Linked DNA regions of Homo sapiens. The protein of the gene in region 3 binds, or shares a complex with, the protein of the main gene of each other region. Each region holds a gene or a part of one and is shown on either strand. Other genes may lie near its edges. The genes, in order: CWC15, PRPF4 and SNRPF.

The links.
Region 1: SNRPF (region 3) and CWC15 share a complex: the UniProt entries of both Homo sapiens proteins name them as parts of the minor spliceosome.
Region 2: SNRPF (region 3) and PRPF4 share a complex: the UniProt entries of both Homo sapiens proteins name them as parts of the U4/U6-U5 tri-snRNP complex.

What each region holds. Positions count from the first base shown.
Region 1 is NC_000011.10:94,966,805-94,970,556, reverse strand, and holds part of CWC15 (spliceosome-associated protein CWC15 homolog), read left to right. Parts: intron 1-460; coding exon 461-568; intron 569-3,752. UniProt on the Homo sapiens protein: Involved in pre-mRNA splicing as component of the spliceosome. Component of the PRP19-CDC5L complex that forms an integral part of the spliceosome and is required for activating pre-mRNA splicing.
Region 2 is NC_000009.12:113,278,508-113,282,259, reverse strand, and holds part of PRPF4 (U4/U6 small nuclear ribonucleoprotein Prp4), read right to left. Parts: intron 3,316-3,752; coding exon 3,129-3,315; intron 1-3,128. UniProt on the Homo sapiens protein: Plays a role in pre-mRNA splicing as component of the U4/U6-U5 tri-snRNP complex that is involved in spliceosome assembly, and as component of the precatalytic spliceosome (spliceosome B complex).
Region 3 is NC_000012.12:95,856,699-95,860,450, forward strand, and holds the start of SNRPF (small nuclear ribonucleoprotein F), read left to right. Parts: upstream 1-2,253; 5' UTR 2,254-2,375; coding exon 2,376-2,378; intron 2,379-3,752. UniProt on the Homo sapiens protein: Plays a role in pre-mRNA splicing as a core component of the spliceosomal U1, U2, U4 and U5 small nuclear ribonucleoproteins (snRNPs), the building blocks of the spliceosome.

The DNA.
Region 1 (3,752 bases), on a different chromosome or scaffold from region 3:
CCCTCTGTGCTTAGGGAGGGAAGTAATCTAAGCAGAAGGTTTTTAAGGATTAGCACATCAGTTAATGTTAAAATTCTGTGGGACCCTAGAGCCTATAATCAATTTGCAGTTTTCTACATACAGGACAGTGAAAAACCTGAGTGGCATCCAATGAGTAATATCTAACTATGTATACATATCAGCAGTTAATTCTAGAGTTAATTGATGGAGTTACTCATAATAGTTAAAACAGGAAACCTAATTTCAACTGAAATTTAATGATTATTCATTTGAAATTATTTTCTTCTGAGAATTTAGCACACTTTTTTGCACTTTTGAGTATCTTTGCTGCTAGCTTAAAGTTGTTTTGAGCTACATAAAATTGTTTTGACTTTCTTAGGGTGATACGTTGTACATATGTACTGTGTTTTGGTAGTGTGTATTTTCCCTCCAATCTTCTGGGCTCTCACTGTTCTTTTAGGAGGAAGATGAAGATTTTGAAGAAGAAAGTGATGATGATGATACTGCAGCTCTTCTTGCAGAACTGGAAAAAATTAAAAAAGAAAGAGCTGAAGAGCAGGCCAGGAAGGTAAAACCAAAGTATTAAATATTTACATCTATCTTCTCACATACACTAAGGTAGAAATTTTTTTGAATATAAGTAATATCTTCTTATATTAGAAATCTCCTTTACCGTGTCTAAATATTATAGCACTTGTAGATCTATAAATGATTATTTTTATGACATCCTAGGTATCCTGGTTATGTAAGAAATTCTTTCCAAATAGTTCAGATGCACTGAGTAATATTCACAGGCTTGCTAGTCATTTACTTGTTTATTCATTTGTTCAACATTTAGTCGATATCTGTTAATTGACAGGAGAATCAAAGATGATCAAGATATAGTTGTGGTCTACAAAGATTATCTCTCTGCTTGTCTACTGCCTAGGTACTATTAAGGCAATCAGTCAGTAGATATTATATAACCTAGGTCAAGCTACCTAACTTCTCTGAGCCCCCACAGTCTCTCTGTTTACACAATATGAGGAAAAAATATAAAACTCAAAGATAGTTAAAATTCTGAATAAATTACCCAGAGTGATAATAAGAGGTGAAACTGAGGAGGCAAGTGCAAGTCAGAGCATTAGAGGTTTGCAAAACAATACTGAAGGAGTCTAGATTTTTTCTAAAGGACATGAAGAGCTGGTTGATTTCAGCAGGAGATTGATAAAACTGGATACGCATTTTAGAAAGATTACTCTGGCAAAATATGGAGGATGGATTGGAAAAAAACTGAGTTAGGAGGCTGTTCCAGTAATCCTCCCAATTAAGAGACTCTTAGCTTGTATGATAGGAGTTGGAATTGAGGTAAGTAATTAGATGCTGATAAAGCTGATTATCAAGGAGGTCAAAGTGGGAAGGGGAGCAGGAAAAAATAAAAAAGGAGGTTGAGTTGACAGATAGTGACTGATTGATTGTAGCAGCAGAGAGGACCCTCACTTTCTAGGTAAATGTTGGTGCCATCAATACAGGGAATGCAAAAGAATTGCCATATTTAGGCAGAGAGAAGAGGTAGTTGATGAGTTCTGTTTTGAACATGTTAAATTTGACACATTGTGAGACATTCAGGTAGGGTTGTCTGCCCCTGTTTTCAACCAGAGCAGCACAGCTTTTTCATAGATTTCTGTGTAAAATTTTATTTGAGGCAAGAATTGTTCTGTTTTTAAAAAAGAAAGTAAGAAAATATACTGCATGGTCAATACCAGGAATCTAGGGAAGTAGACTTCATGTGAATCAGGAGGGCCAGGGAAGAATTCAGAAAACAGGTAGAATTTGGGATAGACTTTGAAGACTTAGAATTCAGATTGGAAGAAGAAAAGCATTTCAAAATACAATTCTCATCAAAGTTTTGTATAAGAGAGCATAATTCCTGTAATAGCTTATAGTTTTTACATCTAGTTTTTAAAAGTCAAAGAATTATAAAAACATTCCCAGTCCCACTTGCATACCACTAGAGGGCAATTGTTCCAAATTTTTTTAGCTTGCCTAATAGTTCTGGACACATAGAGATGAGCAATTTAAATGCTTTTGGTTGACCTTGAGGGAGGATAAACATTTTAGACAGAAGGCCTTGCAGTTTTGTGAGTTTCATCTAATATCTGTATTAAAATGTGTTGATATTTCTTGCGGTTGAATGATAGTTTCTTTTATCCCTGTTTCCCTTTCTATTGGCTGGTTTTTGCCATGTTCCAAATTTAAGATTTTCAAACCATTTAGCCCTTGTCAGGGGTCAGCACCCTTTCTGTAAAGGGCCAGGTAGTAAATATTTTAGGCTGGCTGGTCATGGAGCCTCTATCACACCTACTCACCTCCACTGTTATAACATAAAAACACCCACAGAGTACATAAGTGAACAAGTGTGGCAATGTTTCAATAAAATATTTACAAAAACAGTTAGTTAGGATTTGACCTACATGCCATCTGATGACTAGCCTATATTATGAAACATAGTATGCCTGCTGTTTGAATATAGAAAGAGTTTATGCCTTTTTTCCTAGTGCTCTGTGTGGCAATCATTCAGTAACCCCAAAGGAAATAATATTCCAAACATAAAATGTCCATAACCTTTATATGTCATACACATTATAAGTTTGGATATATGGTATACTTAAGCTCCTATTTTTCTAGTATTTCAGAGAAATATCTTTTCCCTTTAAGCATCGGTATAATTTGTTACAAATAAATATATAGCTTTTAGAAAGCCACCTGTTCTGTGATGTATAGTTCCTGATTTAAGTTCTGACCAGTGACATAAAGGAATTTTCCTATTTCCTTACAAGTTAGATCTTTTCACCTCCCATTTTGATTTTTATTTTTCTTCATAAAAATGAAATTCATTGTTTACATTTGAATATTGAAATGAAGTATCAGTAACCTGTATGAAAAATTAGATTATTAAAATAATAACTTTTTTTAAATGACTTCCACACCATCTGTTTTTCCTTGATCTATTAAGTCATCAATTTCTGTTATCCCCAAAACACAGCAAAATGGGATTTATATTTGGCTTAAGATAACATGTTAACAGGTAGATCTAGAAGTGATAGCTAAGGATTTTAGACATTTTATATTCCACATTCTGAGAAGGAAACTCAGGGTGATTTGACTTTGAAGAAGTTGATGCTAAAATAAAAGTGAAGAAAGACAGTGTTGTAACTGATAAAGGATGGGAGGTATAAAAATAGAAACTGAGGCCGGGCACGGTGGCTCACGCCTGTAATCTCAGCACTTTGGGAGGCCGAGGTGAACGGATCACGAGGTCAGGAGTTCGAGACCAGCCTGGCCAACATGGTGAAATGACGTCTCTACTAAAAATACAAAAATTAGCCGGGCATGATGGCACGTGCCAGAGGCTGAGGCAGGAGAATCACTTGAACCTGGGAGGTGGAGGTTGCAGTGAGCTGAGATCATGCCATTGCACTCCAGCCTGGGCAACAGTGAGACTCCGTCTCAAAAAAAAAAAAAAGAAAAACTCAGTAAGACAATAAAAACAAAATAGATCAACCTCAGGTAAATTAGTAGAAATTCATGTTAACTGGATATAATTTTGTATATGGTAGTTTGTCCTATTTTAGGAGTTACTTCTTCATTCATAACTTGTCACCAAACCTAGAGACACAAGTTTACATTATTAGTAATTCAAAATAAGATTAAAATTAATCACAGTTAGGTATGACCCTTTAAAATGAAGGTAATAGTTTTGCTAAATGTGT
Region 2 (3,752 bases), on a different chromosome or scaffold from region 3:
CTCAAGTGATCCTCCTGCCTCAGCCTCCCAAAGTGCTGGGATTACGGGCATGAGCCACTATACCCGGCCCTCCAGGAACCTTCTTTAAGAGTCAAGTGGGGATGGCTAAACTCCCAGTGTGGTTTCTCCCACTCAGTCTTCTCTATTTGGAAATTTCCAAAATTCAACTATAAGCAATTACTCTATACAGTTTAGAGTCAATGAGCCCCTACACTGCTACCACTTGGTCTGTGAAGACTGCCAACTTTCACTCAGTGCCACAATGTACTGGATACTGACTCAGGTGCTAACTATACAGTGATGACTAGGAATCAGTTCTTGATTTCAAGTAGCTTAGTCCTGGGGAAACAACAGAGAGTACTGGCAAACTATAATCCATTATATTACCTATCACTATAGCAGTAAGCACAGAGGGCTAGAGGGGACTTTGTAACGGGCATCTAACTAAGCTTAGAGGATCAGGGAAGGCTTCATTAAAAAAAGGTAATATGTAAATTGAGTCCTCAGTTAATCAGGTCAAGGGGGTCAAGAATGAGAAAATGTCAGGCAGAGGGTTAAACAAATAAGGCCTGGAGGTAAGAAAAACATGTTGAGCTTGCAGTCACAAATAATTCAATATGGCTGGAGCGTAGAACATAGAAGAGGACTGGTGAAGAATAGGGCTGCAAATGCAAGGAGGAGCCAGGTCACAAAGAATTGCTAATGCCACGCTCAGGAGGATTTACAGATGAGAAAGATCCCTGAAACAGTACAAAGAATGGATTAAAAGGGAAGAATAATGGCAGGGAAATCAGACAGTACTGTTGTAGTGACGCTCTGAGTCACAACCGTGGACTGAAATTCAGATAGTAGCAGTAGTGACTCAAAGGATTCATTTAAGGAACATAATAATGAATAAGATAGACTTTGCTGGTGGAAAAAACAAACTAAACAATAATAAAAAAGTATACCCTTTGAAAAGGCTAATAAAATAACATACTATGACAGAGAACAGAGGGGTTAGGTGTGACGAAAGGCTTCTTTGAATAGGTGGCATCTATGCTGAAACGAAAGAATAAGAAGTTTGACAGGGATCCAGGTTAATAAAAAATGAAGAAGAAAGGCCGGGCGCGGTAGCTCACATCTGTAATCCCAGCACTTTGGGAGGCCCAGGCAGGCGGATCACTTGAGGAGGTGTTGAGAGGATCACTTGAGGAGGTGTTCAACACCTGGCCAACGTGTTGAAACCCCGTCTCTACTAAAAATACAGAAATTAGCCAGGCATGGTGGCACATGCCTGTAGTCCCAGCTACTTGGGAGGCTGAGGCAGGAGAATGGCTTGTACCTGGGAGGTGGAGGTTGCAGTGAGCTGAGATTGCACCACCGCACTCCACCCTGGGTGACAGAGCGAGACTCCGTTTCAAAGAAAAAAAAAGGAAGAAAAAAAGCCTCTAAAAGACAAGACAGAAGAATAAAAGTAGACCAATTATGTGGAAAGACATAAAAAGAACTAGCATATTCCATAAGGACCAATGTGGCTATTCTAGTAAATTGGGGAAGGGAGACATGAGTAAGGCTGAAGACCTTACAGACCATGGTAAGAGTTTTTTACTCCAAGTATGAGAAGACAATCTAGGATTTTAAGCAAGCAATTAACACAACATGTTTGGGGCTATCACAACAGTGCAGATTTGAAAGCAGTAAAGATAGAGCAAAGAAGATAGCTGGAGTTGTATCTCGCAAGTAGAACAGACCAGATTTTGCTAATGGATTATAAAGGAGGCTAGGCAGATTTTCAACTAAGAATTGTATGAGTATAGGAGAGAGGTGGGGAAATATTTCAATTCAGATGTCTCAAGTTTGAAGTACCTGTGGGATACCTAAGCTGCAGTGAGAGATTTGGGAATCATCAGAACACACAGTGAATGATGCCATGGGAGTAGAGCTGATCACCAAGGGCAAGTAGAGAAAAAGGCAGCCTGTAAAGGGCAGGCAGAGAAAAAGAGGTTTAGAAGGTAAGTGAGAAGAATTAGCTAGTGAGAGAAGAGGAAAATCAAGAGGATTTGTTATTAGGAGAGTGAAGGAAAGGGAGTAGTTCAAGGAGGGAGTATTTCAAGGAGGAGTGGCTGGCAGTATACTAGGGCTATTCTTAGTAAAGGTGGATTGGTGATCTTAACAAAGAGCAATTTTAATGTGGTAGGGGTTGGTCAGTTTGCAGCAGGTTGAAGAGTAAATAAGGGTAAGGACCTCAAGGGAGTAATAGAAAAAACCCTTCCAACAAGCTGGATGATGAAGGGTAGATGAGACAGTGGACAGAGAGACCAGAGGGGCTCCTCATAATTGTGTGTGACTAGACCACAACTAAGACTTCGCAACCTGCAAATAACAAGAGGGCATTATCTGAGGATGGTACCCCTCTTCAATAAAATCCAAGAAACATTTATCATTGTTCTATGTCATTGATATGGAATGCATTTGATGTCTCAATTTTCAAAGCCCAACAACAAATGTTTATCCAATTCAAAACTCGCACTGGGGAGGGGAGGCAAGGGAGCATGTTAGCACCCTCTTCCAAGTCTATAAAGAAAAACGGGCCAGGCACGAAGGCTCACGCTTGTAATCCCAGCACTTTGGGAGGCCAAGGTGGGTAAATCATTTGAGGTTAGGAGTTCAAGACCAGCCTGGCCAACATGGTGAAACCCTGTCTCTACTAAAAATACAAAAATATAAAAAATAACTAAAAATACAAAAAAGAAAAATGTGGTGGCAGGTGCCTGTAATCCCAGCCACTTGGGAGGCTGAGGCAGGAAAATCGCTTGAACCCGGGAGGCGGAGGCTGCAGTGAGCCGAGATCACGACGCTGCACTCAAGCCTGGGTGACAGAGCAAGACTCTGTCTCAAAACACAAAACAAAACAAAACAAAACAAAACAAAACAAAACAAAAACGAACAAACACAAAAAAGAAACATTAATAGTGCGGTAAAAATTGGCCTAAGACAGATTATGGGCTAACTCATATAAACACAGTAAGATATTGTTAACATGATTTGAGACATTCTATTAAAGTTCAACTAAATGATCAACCAAAATTTGGAGTAGAACCCTGTGATTATAATAAAGAAAAAAAGTAAATATTTAGAAAGGCAACCTTTCTCTTCTTTCAGCAGGACCCTCTCCAAAAAGTGTGATGGGTTCCCCCAAGGCTCTAAGGCAAGCTTTGACCTCTGAGTCATCTGTGGAAACATTGATCTGCCGGGCTCGCTTCCTTCTCTCAAACTCAGCCAATACTTCTGCCTGTCGCTCGCTGATATGCTCTTCAATTTCAAACACTTCTCCTATTAAAAAGAAAACAGGCAACATCAGCAGATCTTCTTCAAATAGAGAGAAATAATTTCTAGTAATTGCAGTCTGTGTATGCCCTGAGGGAAAAGTAACTGTCTATTACACATTTTATAGTTTACTGTTTTTCAGTTTATTAAATTATGCCAAACACATAAACCTAAATGACACAGCTTCAAAAGGCAAGAAAATGGTTCAAGCCACCTCTTGTTTCATTTATTAACTTTGTGCCTATATAAACACACACTTTGGCTGAGACCAGCAAGTAAGAGTACAGAACATCTTTTGCAAATGAGTTAACTAGGCTGTCTATCCAGAAGATGTAACAGAAACATTATTGTAACAACAGCCAAAGCTATTTATTCTCGAAAGGAGACCCAGTATAGGGATACTTAACAAATCATTAACTACTAAACTGCAAATAATTACCAGG
Region 3 (3,752 bases):
CCCACTTAATTTTAATAAGGTATTTAAGATTAAAATTTAATATGGACCAGGAATGGTGGTTCACGCCTGTAATCCCAGCACTTTGGGAGGCCAAGGTGGGTACACAGCTGGAGCCCAAGAGTTTGAGACCAGCCTGGACAACACAGCGAGACCCTATCTCTACAAAAAAAATTAAAAAATTAGCTGGGTGTGGTGGCACATGCCTGTGGTCCCAGCTACTCGGGAGGCTGAAGTGGGAGGATCTCTTGAGCCCAAGAGGTCAAGGCTGCAGTAAGCCAAGATCTCACCTCTACAATCCAGCCTGGGTGACAGAATGAGACCCTGTCTCAAATTAAAAAAAAAATTTAACATGAAAAGAAAAACCAACCTTAAATACACTATCTTTACAGAATGTGTTTACTGTAGTATTTCGTTTCACTTCACTGAGAAAACAGCTAAAGAGTCAGGCTTCTAAAACACATATTGAGTCTTTGAAAGGTAGCTTCATGAAGTAGAAAAAGCAGAGTTTTGAAACCCAGGTATGTGGTCCTGAGCAAGCTATGAGGCAGAAGAATAGCGGCTGGAAGCAGGGAACCTAGGGCCCATCCATGCTGACTGGGTATCAGAGGCTACTCCCATTTCAACCCCTCCTTTTTCTGCGTGGCAGTTGAAAAATGAAAGTACCTCTTATTGGTCCCCTCCCGCAACCAATCAGACTGGTTGTGGGCCAATGGGCAACCTCTAGAGGGTATTTAAAGCCCAGAAAATTCTATAACCAATGCTCTTGAGCCGCTTGCACCAGGCGGTGCCCACCCTGTAGAGTGTACTTTCATTTAAAATAAATCTCTGCTTTCGCTGCCCTGCTTTGTTTGTGCGTTTTGTCCAATTCTTTGTTGAAAACGCCAAGAACTCGGACAGCTACCCTCAACTGGTAACAGTTACCTGCTGGGCCTACTTCCTCATCTCTTAAACGGGGCTGTCACCCCGAATCAGACAGTAAGGTAAGATTTCCACGATTGTTGAAAAAGCCTGACACATAGTAGGAACTCAAAGTCTATACAAAGACTTAAAGTTCATAAAACAATAGACAAACGGAGAAATCCACTGAAGTTTAGGGTGAATAAATCTAATAACTGTTTGGTAAAAACTACACTGACAATCATTGTCTGGTCAGTGTTCAACATTTACGTGAAACACTGAGCTTTTACAAGGCCAAGCCCCGTTTTACGTTAAATTCTCGCAACCACCCTGAGGATGGTTCCGTTTTTAAAGCCGCGTTCCTGCCGAGGAAACAATGGCCCTCGGGGTTAAGACACTGCCCAACACCGGCCGCGCCTGATAGACGCAGGTTCCGAATGCAGGCCCCCTCCAAAGTCTTGCCCACTGCTCCACAATGCCTCAACACCCAACATTTCATCCTCAACTCCAAATCCATCTCTTCAGGGCCGCAAAAAAGCGTTACTTCCCAAAGGGCGTGTTCTCCAAGAACTGCATTTAGCATTTCAGATCAGAGTGACCCGAACTCAATAGGATTACGACAAAAACTAGTGAGATTCAGATAACACCGTTACATCGAAAGTTTTAATCCGTGACAGAGGAAATATTGCTTACGCCCTTAGGTAATTTCAAATGCACGTATGAAGGCCGTGCGGGTTTCTGCAGGCGAAGCAAAAGAAAGGTGGGGCCGGCAGGGTCGTGGGGCGGGGGTGGGGCATGACACCGTATCCCAGACGCAACTCGACCTCGTTTGCAAGAAATTCTGTATCCAACTCTCTTCAGTGCGTTTCGCCGCCCCTAGTCTAGTCTGGCTAGCCCCCAATTCCTTTAAAAGGGGTTAAAACGGGTGTTGCAGAAGAGAGAACACTCAGGTAGAAAGGGCCTGCGGCAGAGGCGCCCCCAAATCATGGAACCTGTTGGAAGAGTGAGGAAGGAACTCTGGGACCCCGAACATTCTCACGGGTGTAAAAAGACAAAGTAAATCCCCATTAGCCAAGTTGGGGAGAAGTCACATCCGTTACACAGCCTCTCCCAGACCGCCCTCTAGGAAGGACACCACATTTAAAAACACCGGCCTGCCTCCAGTCCTTGGCTGCCTCACAGCGATGCTCAGAGCCGGTTTCCCAAGGTCCGCGCGCCGCCTGCAAGGCGCAAACCCAAGCCGCTGCTGGTTGCTAGGAGATACTGGGCCAGCCATCTCCTCCAATCAGCACGCACCTCTTTGCGTCCAATCACAGAGGCAGGAAGGGCCGTGGTGGGAGGTGAAAGGTCATAGTCCTGTTTGGCGGCCATTTCTCTTGAAACTGCGGCTCGGGACCTGCGGTACCTGCTGTAGTCACGAGGGACGGGCGGCGGCCTGGTCGGCAGAGAGTAGCCTGCAACATTCGGCCGTGGTTACGATGGTAAGGAGAAAGAGAACGGCGGGAGAAGCGGGGAGAAAGAGAAGGAGGGAGACCAGCCTCGCGGGGCCTGCTGGTTCCTTCGCGCGTTTCCCATTCATCCGCGTGAGGCGCCGCGCACCCTGTCGCCAGCTCCTTTCACTCTGCTTTTAGGTTTCTGAGGCGCGTGCTCCTCCCGATGCCTTTCTTTTCCTAGGAGTGCCCGTGCCTTCTTCTCTTTGTTTGAATCCGGGCCTGGGGTATTCTTAGTTGGGGCTATAGGGTCGGGGTAAAAGTCAAAGAGAATTTGCACTTCCCACTTAACCACACTCCAGAATTCACTTTCATTCCGTGAAAGTAATGATACGGCCATGCTCTAGATTAACTCACTTGGGTGGGGAAGACAGACATTAGTCAAAAAATAACAAGTATGTAATTGCAAATAATAAGTGCTAAGAACAATGCAGACAGGAGGCTGTGAGGGTGCGCGTTAGACATTAGAGGCTTAGTCAGAGATGGCCTCCCTAGGAGGTGGAATTTAACTCGAAGCCTAAGTGTCATGAAATACGACCCTTTAAAGAGCAGGAGGAGGAGTGTACCGAGCACAGGGAATAGGAGCATAAGACCTGCGGCCGGAAAGAAAGCTTGGTCATTTGGAGAAATTGACAGAAAGGTATAGCCACTTGCGCGAATAGTGGTTAAGAGATGGTATCGGAGGAGCAGGCGTTGGGCAGGACCTCTTAGGCTGTATTGGGAGGTTTTGATTGTACTCCAAATCAATTTAAAATGATTCGGTTGGAAGCCATTGGATCATTTTAAGCAGAAATATGACAATCTGATGTGCACTTTAAAAAATCATAGTTACTGTGGTGGATAACAAATTGGAGAATGAAAACTGGAGACCCATTAGGTTATTGGAGTAATCGCCATATCAAGATCACTCCGAATATGCTCATGTTAGAGGGGGTTAGTAGCCAAGTTTCTTAGTTCTCTTCTTTGTTTGACTGGTGAGTGAGCAGAAGAGGGCAAAAACCGAAATCACTGGAGATGTTAATGGTTTGCTGAATAAATAGACATTAAGTAATTGCTGTAAGTAAGAGGCGGTGCTACTGACAAAGTCAGATAGGACCTAGCCCTAGCTTCCCCAGTTAAATACTGTCAAGCGTGATCTGCCCTCTGCTTCCTTCTGTAGTTTTATATTTGGGGCTTTGACTGACAATGCTGAATTGTATGTCCCCAAAACCACCTTGTTGCATCACTCTTCCCTCCTTTTACATAAGTAGCTAGCCTTGCCTGGAACAGCATTTTTTCCCGCTCTGGAAATAAACTCTTATCCTTTAAAACTGAGGTATTACTTATTTCAGGCAACCTTTCCTTTTTCCCCTGGATTGCTTTGGT